3 linked regions of the Homo sapiens genome follow. The protein of the gene in region 3 purifies or fractionates together with the protein of the main gene of each other region. This does not show direct contact. Each region holds a gene or a part of one and is shown on either strand. Other genes may lie near its edges.

Region 1 (3,500 bases), on a different chromosome or scaffold from region 3:
AAACCACCCACTGCTCCCCGCCACCTCCACCTGGGTCTCAGCCACCAGAGTCTGTTTCCTGGCCTCTTGTAATGAGCTCCCAACTTCCACTTCATCCCCTACAGACCCACCCTTCTTCATCCAGCAGCCAGAATTTTTTTTTTTTTTTCCGAGATGGAGTCTTGCTCTGTCACTCAGGCTGGAAGGCAGTGGCGGGATCTCGGCTCACTGCAACCTCTGTCTCCTGGGTTCAAGCAATTCTCCTGCCTCAGCCTCCTAAGTAGTTGGGATTACAGGTGCCTGCTACCATGCCCAGCTAAATTTTGTGTATTTTTAGTAGAGACGCGGTTTCACCATGTTGGTCAGGTTGGTTTCGAACTCCTGACCTCAAGTGATATGCCCACCTCAGCCTCCCAAAGTGCTGGGATTACAGGCATGAGCCACTGCCCCTGGCCCAGAATGGCCTTTTTTAAACAGTTCAAGTTACCGTCCAGTTCCAAATCCTCCAGGAGCCTCCCATTGCCTTCAGAATGAAATCCTAAGTCCTCTGCCTAAAATGCCCTCTGTAGAACTGGGCACAGTGGCTCACACCTGTAATCCCAGTGCTTTGGGAAGCCGAGACAGGAGGATGGCTTGAGCCTAGGAGTTTCAGATCAGCCTGGGCAACATGGTGAGACCCGTGTCTCTACAAAAAAAAAAAAAAAAAAAACCCGAAAACTTCACCGGGCGTGGTGATGTGTGCCTGTAGTTCCAGCTACTGAGGAGGCTGGGGCTGAAGAGGCTGGGGTGGGAGGATCAGTTGAGCCTAGGAAGTCGAGGCTGTAGTGAGCTATGATTGCACCGCTGTACTCCAGCCCGGGCACCAGAGCAAGACTCTGTCTCTAAATAAATAAATGAAATAAAATGCCCTCCACCATCTGACTCTCAGTTCACTCTGCGACTTCATCTCCACTTCTGCTCAATCATTTGGTGCTCGTCACGCCAGCCTCCTTCTTGTTTCTTGAACACCCCAAGCACGATCCTACCTCACGCCTTTGCACTGGTGGCCCCCTCTGCTTTGCCTCAGGTCCCCTGAGCCCTCCCTCACTTCATCTAAGGTTCTGTTCAAATGTCACCTCTTCAGAGAGGCCTCCCAGACCACTCTCTAGGAAACTGCAGACTCTCCACCCGCAGACATATACCTGACCCTCCCATCTTCCCTTCCGCTTGAGTTTTCCCCAGGACACTTACGACCACAAATCTGTGATTATTTGATCAATTATATGATTGATCTCCTCAACTGGACTAAAAGTCCTTGAGCTCTGAGTCGAGTCTGTTCTGTTCACTGTTCCCAGTGCCTAGGCCAGAGCCTGGCACACAGCAGGAACTCATAAATGCTTCTTTTGTGAATGAATGAATGAATGAATGAGTGAATGACCGGAGTGCGTGGGTGACTGCACTACACTCTTTTTTTTTTTCTTATACTTTAACTTCTGGGGTACATGTGCACTATGTGCAGGTTTGATACATAGGTATACATGTGCCATTTTGGTTTGCTGCACCCATCAACTCGTCATTTACATTAGGTCTTTTTTTTTTTTTTTTTTTTTGAGACGGAGTCTCGCTCTGTCACCCAAGCTGGAGTGCAGTGGTGGGATCTCGGCTCACTGCAAGCTCCGCCTCCCGGGTTCACGCTATTCTCCTGCCTCAGCCTCCCGAGTAGCTGGGACTACAAGCGCCTGCCACCACGCCCGGCTAATTTTTTGTATTTTTTTTAGTAGAGACAGGGTTTCACCGTGTTAGCCAGGATGGTCTTGATCTCCTGACCTCGTGATCCGCCTGCCTCAGCCTCCCAAAGTGCTGGGATTACAGACGTGAGTCACCGCGCCCGGCCCACTCTTTTATTATTATTATTATTATTATTATTATACTTTAAGTTCTAGGGTACACATGCACAACGTGCAGGTTTGATACATAGGTATACATGTGCCATGTTGGTTTGCTGCACCCATCAACTTGTCGTTTACATTAGTTTTTTTTTTTTTGAGACAGGGTTTCACTGTTGCCCAGGCTGGAGTGCAGTGGCGCGATCATAGCTCACTGCAGCCTTGACCTCCAGGGCTCAAGCGATCCTCCCACCTCAGCCTTCCGAGTAGCTGGGACCACAGGCGCATGCCACCATGCCAAGCTAATTAAAACAAAAATGTTTTGTAGAGATGGAATCTGGCTATGTTGCCCAGGCTGGGACTGCACTGTTTGACGTCTGAGCAGTCCTCTGCCTGAGCTGGGACACCAGCATGCCTACCTCCCCACCTGCCAATTCCTTGTTCCTAGTGGATGGGAATGGAACAAGGTAAACACCCCCCACACCCCTTCTTCCCAGCATCTAGGACTTGATGAAGCTGCACCTTCAAAGTCTTCCCGAGGCCACTCACAGTCACTCTGCCCTGGGTCAGACTCAAATGCAGATCGGGCGCAGGCTGGGTTTAGGGCCCTGCTATGCATTAAGATTGCAGTGGAGCCGGGCGCGGTGGCTCACGCCTATAATCCCAGCACTTTGGGAGGCCGAGGTGGGTGGATCACAAGGTCAGGGGTTCGAGACCAGCCTGACCAACATGGTGAAACCCCGTCTCTACTAAAAATACAAAAATTAGCTGGGCGTGGTGGCGGGCACCTGTAATCCCAGCTACTCAGGAGGCTGAGGCAGGAGAATTGCTTGAACCTGGGAGGCAGAGCTTGCAGTGAGCCAAGATCATGCCACTGCACTCCAGCCTGGGTCACAAAGCAAGATTCCATCTGAAAAAAAAAAAAAAGATTGCAGTGGAACTGGGGCTTGGGAGCTGTTAGGGTTTTCACCTCCCTCAGCAATGAGGTTTTGAGGCGAGGAGAAAACCAGGGCCGGCAGGGTGCAGTGGTTCATGCCTGTAATGCCAGCACTTTGTGAGACTAAGGCGGGTGGATCACTTGAGGTCAGGAGTTCGAGACCAGCCAGGCCAACATGGCAAAATCCCGTCTCTACTAAAAATACAAAAGTTATCCGGGCAAGGTGGTGGGCACCTGTAATCCCAGCTGCTCAGGAGGCTGAGACACAAGAATCACTTGAACCCGGAAAGCAGAGGTTGCAGTGAGCTGAGATCATGTCACTGCACTCCAGCCCGGGTGACAGAGGAAGACTCCATCTCAAAAAAAAGAAGAAGAAGAAGAAGGTCGGGCGAGGTGGCTCATGCCTGTAATCCCAGCAATTTGGGAGGCCGAGGCAGGTGGATCACTTGAGGTCAGGAGTTTGAGACCAGCCCGGTCAACATGGTGAAACACTGTCTCTACTAAAAAAAAAAAAAAAAAATACAAAAATTAGCCAGGCGTGGTGGCATGTGCCTGCAATCCCAGCACTTTGGGAGGCCAAGGCAGGTGGATCACTTGAAGTCAGGAGTTCAAGACCAGCCTAGTCAACATGGTGAAACTCCATCTCTACTGAAAAAAAAAAAAAAAAAACAAAAATTAACCGGGCATGGTGGCACGTGCCTGTAATCCCAGCACTTTGG
Region 2 (3,500 bases), on a different chromosome or scaffold from region 3:
ATTCCCGCTGCACACCCATGGTAGAACTGCAACCAGGACATGAGCCTCCTGACACCCCTAAAAGCCATGCAGCCTTCTGCCGTGAGTGGGGAAGGGGTCCAGGCATGGCTGAGGTTTGGGAGAAGGAGGTCCGCAACTGGGCACTGGGGGACCTGGCAGCCCAAGGCTACCTTCTGCACACAGACCCAGCCTTCTGCTCTGAGGGGCCCAGGCCCTAAGCTGCACGATGGCCACCACCCACACTTCCATACCCAGACCAGCTGCAGCGGCCTGGCCAGGATGATGGGCGCTCCTGCCCAACTGCAATTTCCCAGCTGCTGCAGAGTTAATCACCAGCCTCACTGGCAGTTGCTTCCGGCTTCTATGCAAAGGAAACTGCCAATTAGGTTATAATTAATTTCTTTCCTAGGGCAAGGCCTGGCTGAACAGGACTGGCCACCCAAGTGGCCTGTGGATGACCATGTAAGGGTCACTGGCCCCCTTGGCTGCAGGGCTGTAGAGTCTGCCCCAGCTGATTACATTGTTCACTGGCCCTGGCCTGGGGCAACGGGGCCAGGGCATCACCACTGGCTTTGACCCTGGTGCCTCTGGCCTGGGCAACTGTCCCCATGCACTCAGCAAGGCAGTGACTCAGATCATGTCCATGTGCAAATTTAAGTCAATCTGTCAGCTCATGTTCCTCAAGCTGAGATGGTCTTGCCCATTTTCGCCCTACCCCAGCCCCTTCTCATCCCTGTTCAACATTAACCAGTAGGAATCCACGGTGTGCTCCTCATGAGCAGGTCTGCTCCGGGCGCTTCATCTGCATCACCCACTGCATCAAAACAACTGTCAGAGGTAGGGACCATGAGGATTCCCATCTCACACAGGAGGAAAATGAGGCAGCACTAGCTTAGGTACCCTGCTGGAGGCCACACAGAGGCTAGGAATTAAGCTGCAGTCTGGCCTGGGCTTCTCTGTTCAGTGACAGGCATGCAGAGAAGCCGAGGCACCGTGAGCTACCACCCCTTCTGCATTGGGCTGCAGAGTAGAAGCTGGGCTCTCCCTGGAGAGAGGACACAAAAAAGGCTTGAGGGTCTGCTCTTAAGAGCAGTGGAGAGCAGAGGGAGAGAGCCAGGAGCCTCTGAGACAGTAGGTTTCAGCCCAGCACAGACCTGGGGCCAGACAAGCTGACAATCCTGATGCCCCAGGTCACAGCCAGGCAGCCCGATGCGGGGGCACCACCTGCATCTGGATGCTGTTATCCAGGTCCTGGGAGCAAAGACCTCAACATCAAGGGTGAAGAAGAATCCAAACCCAAGGCTGGGGATGCCATGCAGGGAAGGGGATGCCCAGGGAAGTGGTGCCAAGTCTTCATCTGACACTACCCCCATGTGTGACAACTCACGCCTCCCTCAGGGCCTCGATTTCTCCCTGTGTAAAATGAGAGGTTTGCACTGATGTGTAAGCTCCTCTCAGCCGAGGTCCTCATGCCCTTTGAGTCCACGTGATGTCTATGCAGGAGTATCCACAGAATGAGCTCCTGACCAGGGGCCGAGGGGCAGACGGTGGCCGAGATGGAAATCAGGACAGGCTCTGGCCTAGGTGGCCCCTGGGGGGTGAGGGACATGGGGCCAAAACAGGATTAAGACTGCAAGTGTCCTCCCAGGCCACTGACGATGAGGCAAGAAGACAAAGGCCTAGTCCAAAGGAGAGAGTTCAGCAGCAGAAAGGAGAGAGTTCAGCAGCAGGAAGGAGCAGAAACGCAGGGCAGAGCGGCCCAGCCCATGCCCCTGTGCTTCCCCGCTGTTTGCCAGGGCTGGGCACTTGGCTTCCCTGGCTCTGTCCCTAGCTGCGAATGGGGACAGGAACTCCTCCTTGGGAGCACAGAGTGCCTGCCTATGGATGCCAGTGTTCCACCCCCACCAAGCAGATTTGCAGGAGCCCACAGAGGCTGCCTGCCACCCTCGGTTCAGGGCCCCCCAGCTCCATGCTGGCCTCCAGAGCTGCCTAGGTGCATCCACCGCTGTCCTGAGAAAACTGCCCCAGGGCCTGGCAGCATGACATCACACCACGGCAATGATGATAATCAACTTACAGCGGATCCGATTATCAGCCTGGTTATTTTTAGAGTCAGGGTTCAGGATGAGCGAGAGAGGGCGGCCCTGGTTCCCCTGCTGCTGAGTCTCGTCTTGTCAGTGGGGTGGGGGTCTGCTGGCTCCTTGCACCTTCCCCTTCCTCCATCCTTCACAGGGCGGTTCCTGAGAGGCCCCTTCTTATGCACAAGCAGTGACACCATGGTTTCCAGATGTTGGTGCTCAACGTGGCCTCAGAGTCCAGGTCTTCCGAGAATGTCCTCAAGGTCCTCGAGGGCAGTGGTGATTCAATGCCCATGTGAGGAATCAGACGAATCCACACTCTCCTCACAAGGGACCTGGGGCTCAATCACTGACAGTGACGGCCCTGGATAAAGCTGCTTCTCTGCAGCTCTTGATGCAGATGCAACAGCAAAGTCAGCTGTATGGCAAGACAGCCATCTAGTTAGACAACAGGCAGAGGGCTCGAAGAGATGCTTCTCCAAAGAGACATGCAACTGGCCAGCATGCACAGGAAAAGATGCCCAGCACGCCATCACCGGGGAAAGGCAAACCAAAGCCACAACGAGCTAGCACTGTGCACTGGCTGCACGGCCAGAGTGAGACATGAACCAGAGAATAACAGAGAATAATGCGTGGTGGTGAGAATGTGGATAGATTGTAACCCTTGGGAATGTAACACAATTCAACCACTGTGGAAAACAGTTTGGCGGCTCCACAAAATATAAAACAGAATTACCTAGCGATTTCATGTCCAGGTATGTACCCAAAAGAACTGAAAGCACGAACTCAGGTATTTATAACAGGAATGTCCCTGGCAGCATTTTTCATAACTGCCAAAAGGTGGAAAGCACCCACGTGTCCATCCCCAGATGAATGGGTGACGGCACACTATTTACCCCTCACAGGAAGGGGCTGATGTGTGCCACAGCCTAGAGGAACCCTGAAGACCTTATGCTGAGTGAAGCCAGACAACAGTCCATGCAGATGAAATGTTCCAGGACAGGCCAAGCCGCAGAGACAGAACGCAGGCTGGGGGTTGCCCGGGGACAGGAAGCAGCTGTTTAATGGGTATGGGGTTTCCTTTTGGGGTGATGCAAATTTTTTGGAACTAAGGCAATGCCTGTTCAATGCTGTAAATGTGCTAAATGCCACCAAATGGTTCACTTATAAATGGTTAAACTTATGTTACACAAATTTCACAATTAAAAAAGAGTAAACCATAATTATTTGCTACCCTGTTTCCCCCTCTGTCCCCCTCAGCTGCTGGGCCCGCCAGGAGCCCCTGCTATGTGGACCAGGACAAGGGATGGAGAGCTGGTAGGCAGAAGTGTGTGCAGGTACACCCCTGCGTGCCCCCATCCCCGCGTCCTCTGTACTTGAAGCCTCCTGGGGTGAGAACGACCATGTGACAGGATCCCACGG
Region 3 (4,294 bases):
ATTCTGAATAGAAAAGTATCTGACTTAAAAAAAAAGTTCCCAAAATAGTCAAGGTGAATTTAATATTTTGATTTAATTTAAAACAAAACTGTTTCAATATCTAACTTTGAAGTTTACATTTCTCAGGTAGAAATGGAGGACAAAAGCAATTAACTTTTATATGAACACACTTTTATTGTTTTCTATGAAGGCTGCACTTTACAAAGGCAAAGCTCTAAACAGTGAACACAGCAAAAGAGGCTTTGTAAGTGTAAATATACATTTGCACACATCGTTAGGCAGAAATGGCGTTCAAGATGACATTTCAAACGCTGTGAATGCCATAGTTACCCAAGAAGCAATCAATGCACTTTCCTTGGGCCCTATGTTATAATTGGGTTACATACTCAGTTTTTGTTGTGTGAAATCCTGGAGGGCTTGGATGGGGTGGAGGGGAATCCTATAGACTCCAGGGCCAAGTGCGCAGGAAGGGGATGCTCAGGCTACATTCTTCAGTCTCATTTTCATATGCAGGTGACTCTGTGAACGCAGACATACATCTTGTCTGGGACTTAACTCATCCATTAGTTTATATAGTCTGAGGCATCAGATACAATTGCGATTTCAAGAAGATCAAAGGCCGAGAAAAATGATCAAGCATCCAGTCGTAAAGCAAAGGGCTTCAAAGGTCAAGCTAAGAAGACGACTCCCTTCCACCTCCAGCTCTGCACCTCCCTTGGCTGACAGCTGTGTGGTGACAGACTTGAGCATTCCGTCCCGGCTGCGAGGAACAACCAGACTCCTGGAGAACCGCAGCTTTTCCCGTGGGTTCGTCCTTATATGCCTGGAAAAGAATGAGGCGCTTTCTTCTACCCAAGAAAAGCCCTTGAAACCTGGCCGAGGATCTGACTCTGGCGCCTGCTCTCTCTCGCCTTGGTGGGGCTCACGGCAGCGCACGTTGGCTCCAGGCTGGAGGAAGGGGGGCGTTGCTGTCACCCAGCTCCGCACTCGCTCTTGCAGCCTCCCAGCCTACTACAGAGCTGCTGAAGTTCCAGAATGGGCCCCTGTTGTCCTTGGGGTACAGTCTGCACCTTTAATGCGAAACCCAGCAGAGGCAGCACCAAGAGTCAAGTCTGCCTTTCCCGTCCTCCTGTCCCCAACACCTGGCGCCGCCAACTCCCGACAAAGCGACTCCTGGTGCTTGGTGATCTGCCCTCTTTCGGGGATTCTACCTTATCTTTCTTCCACTCTCTAACACTACCCTTCTTTTGCTTTCTTTTTTACACAAAAATTAGCAAAGTCCTCCCCTCTTTTTCCCCTTCTCCAAGTTGGAGGATTCATCCAGTCATCAGGGAACACAGGAAAGGTTCTAGCTCAAGGACCCTTTGCCCCGGGAGGCAGGAGCTTGGTAGAACTGGAAGTTGGAGAACAGTGAGGTAGACACAACCAGAGTCTGGAACAGGGGCCCTTTCTTTCCCAGACGAGTTTCCCCTCGCTTTTCTGGACCAGCCAGCCGGGGTCAGCCTCCCAGGCCACCCTACATCGCGCGCTCCCCAGGGACCTCCTGCCCATCCCTCCATCCTCTCTCTCGCGTCCCAAGTCTAGGCTGCTCCCGCCCAGGTGACAGCCCCTCCTGTCCCGCTGCCTCCCGTGAGTCCCTCCTACCGCCTCGTCTGGTCACTAGAATAGTTTTGAACCCTTGGGTTCTACACGGTTTCCCTCCCAAGCCAGGCAGCGCATCTCTCAAGAATAGGGAAAGGTCTCCATCAACTTTGCCGTCACGGAGCAGTGACCGCGGGCGGGCGCGGGGCACACACCTGCCTGCACGCGGGCGCGGGTCCCCGGGTAGGGGAGCACTTGCGGGGCGCGGGAGCCGCCCTCGGCCACGGCGAAGGCGCCCTAAACTACAGCCGGCAGGGACGCGCGGCGCTGGGAGGGCATCAGACGGGAATTTCGAATTGAGCTTGGGAAGCGGAGACCAGAAAATGGTGATTCTAAACACACGCGAGCGTCGCCACACACAGCAGTTCCACCCGAAAGGCGCACACTTTTGAGAACAGACCATCGTGGATAGCACCGCAAAGAAACCTCCTCCAAGGCACGTTCCTCGTTGGAACTGACAACCCCTTTCGTCTACTGACTTCCCCGCACGGTCGAAGACAGCCCGGTGCACTCGAGGATGGGGACTCAGGCGCTCCTGGAGTCCCCAGGTCCGTCTGCGGAGCCCCCCGGCAGGTGTGGGCCCCCACCTGGCCAAGCAACAAGCGGGCCATCCGCCTAAGGGCCGGGTCCCTCTCTGCCCTGTACCCGCACGGGTCACCTCTCCCTGCCCCCCCCCCAGGCAGCCAGCCGGGCCGAACGAGCGCCGGGGAAGGAGCAAGCCGAGCGAGCCACTCACCCCAAGCTTCCTGCTGCGGATTTTCACGTAGCCCTGCTTGACTATGTCGTTAAAGTTGGAGGCCATGGCCAGCGCGATCGGGCTCCTGCGCCCCGCGATCCGCTCTCCGGAGTCGAGAGCCGCCGTCCGCCGCCGGGTCTGCGCGGGTCTCGCATCCAGCCGGCCGCCGCCAGCAGCAGCGCCGCCGCCCGCTCTTCCCCGAGCTCCCGCCGGTGGGGACGCGGGGTCGCCTGCAGGGCCGCCGCGGACGGGGAACGGGGCCCGGCGCCGCGAGCCGCGCCAGCCCTCCGCGTTCTGGCGCTCACCTTCGCTCCCCGCCGCGAGCCCAGCGCCGCGGCCCGCGCCTCCGCCAGCTGCGGGAGCCCCCACCGCGCCGCCGCCCCCGGCAGCACCCACGGGCTGGCGCCTCGCTCGGCGGCGCACAGCTGGCCGGAGCGCACCACCGCGGCTCCCCGGCGCGGGGGGAGGGGGCGGGCCGGGGGGGGCGGGCTGATGCGCCGGCCCCGCTCCCTCCCCCTGGCCCGTGGGGTGGCTGGGCTCGGAGACGCTCGCAAGACGCGCTCCATCCCTCTCCGCGCGGGTGGGAGCGCCTCCGCCGCCGGGCGCCCCGAGGCCCGCTCCCCACCCGGCTCCCCGGTCCCTCAGCGCTCCCCGGGCGCGAGATTCCTAAGGACACGGCGCCTCATTCCCGGGCTCTAAATCTCCACTCGCAAGCTGTGCAGCGGGGAAAGGGCAGTGGGGACACTTCCAACGCGGAAGGCCAGCGGGAGCGAGACACTTATTTCATTGGCCTTGTTTACAGTACATTTTTATTCCCAAGCACTCGCGGCCGTTCCAGGTCTCTGCCCCGTTAGGAAGTGTAAATCGACGCCAGACCCTTCCTGGTGCACACAAAGAGACCAATCGTGCGCATGTGTCTAATCCTCCCGCAGCCTAGAGACAGGCAGGCGGGCGAGGCAGCCGGGCGCCGACGTCCTCTGCTGAAGGAGTGGAGAAGACCGACCGACCCGAGTGGTTGATTTATGCATGCGTTTTCGTTAACTAGGACTGAAAGTGGCTCCTGGCTCTTCTGGGAAAATGGAGAACGTGGTTGTTATCAATGGATACCAATGACTTCCTGAAATGCTCAACTTGTACAAACAAAAAATGAAAAACTTTCTCCCCTTAATGTAGAAACACATGGCATTTTAAAAGTAGGTTTTTCATTATTGTAAAGATGTTTTAATTTTTAGGATTATGTTTTTGTGAAAGATTCGAGGAAAAAGAGCGATGTTGAGTTTTGGCCGGAGGCAACATATGGATTTTTACTATAGGCTAGAACATTTAGTACTTACTTCTAAGGATGTTTCTAATTAGTAAAATGTATAAAGATTGACAATTTTTAAGGTGACTCCTGCAAGAGTTATATTTAGTAAAAGTTCAAAAGATGATGTTTGTTTATTACGGTGAGCAGTATTTTTCCAGGTTCTCATTTAAAATTTCCTACCCCATTTGAAACACAATAATAGAAAGAAAGGAAACTTACTTGAATGAGGTTGTGGGGGGAATGTAAAAACTTGAAGGACAAGGTAGCTCAGTCCAACCAGATGAGCATCCAAGGGAGATTTTTGTCTCATCCTTTGCAGAAATCTCCATCTAGAGCCCGTGTAAACCAATGGAAATTCTTACTTGCTTTAACAGCACACTATTCCTATTCATTCATTAATGTGGGCTAGCCTTTTTTTTTTTTTAAATAAAAAAACCTTCCACCGTGCAAAGTACCAGATGCTGGGGCAGATCAGATACTAAGGATAACATGGTAAAATCCTTTCCGCTGTCACTCTGGAATGGGCCCAAACTCTGACCTTCCCAGAAAATTTGCATAAACTCCCTGGAATGGGCTCAAGCTCTGACCTTCTCAGAAAATTTGCATAAACT

What was found.
Region 1: the proteins of DOK6 (region 3) and CNN1 purify together in Homo sapiens (affinity purification with mass spectrometry; one large-scale study listed by BioGRID and IntAct). This does not show direct contact.
Region 2: the proteins of DOK6 (region 3) and RET purify together in Homo sapiens (affinity purification with western blotting, with the first as the bait; one study listed by BioGRID). This does not show direct contact.

The regions. Positions count from the first base shown.
Region 1 is NC_000019.10:11,541,851-11,545,350, reverse strand, and holds part of CNN1 (calponin-1), read right to left. Parts: intron 1-3,500. UniProt on the Homo sapiens protein: Thin filament-associated protein that is implicated in the regulation and modulation of smooth muscle contraction. It is capable of binding to actin, calmodulin and tropomyosin. The interaction of calponin with actin inhibits the actomyosin Mg-ATPase activity.
Region 2 is NC_000010.11:43,083,569-43,087,068, reverse strand, and holds part of RET (proto-oncogene tyrosine-protein kinase receptor Ret isoform a precursor), read right to left. Parts: intron 1-3,500. UniProt on the Homo sapiens protein: Receptor tyrosine-protein kinase involved in numerous cellular mechanisms including cell proliferation, neuronal navigation, cell migration, and cell differentiation in response to glia cell line-derived growth family factors (GDNF, NRTN, ARTN, PSPN and GDF15).
Region 3 is NC_000018.10:69,399,394-69,403,687, reverse strand, and holds the start of DOK6 (docking protein 6), read right to left. Parts: upstream 2,801-4,294; 5' UTR 2,444-2,800; coding exon 2,378-2,443; intron 1-2,377. UniProt on the Homo sapiens protein: DOK proteins are enzymatically inert adaptor or scaffolding proteins. They provide a docking platform for the assembly of multimolecular signaling complexes. DOK6 promotes Ret-mediated neurite growth. May have a role in brain development and/or maintenance.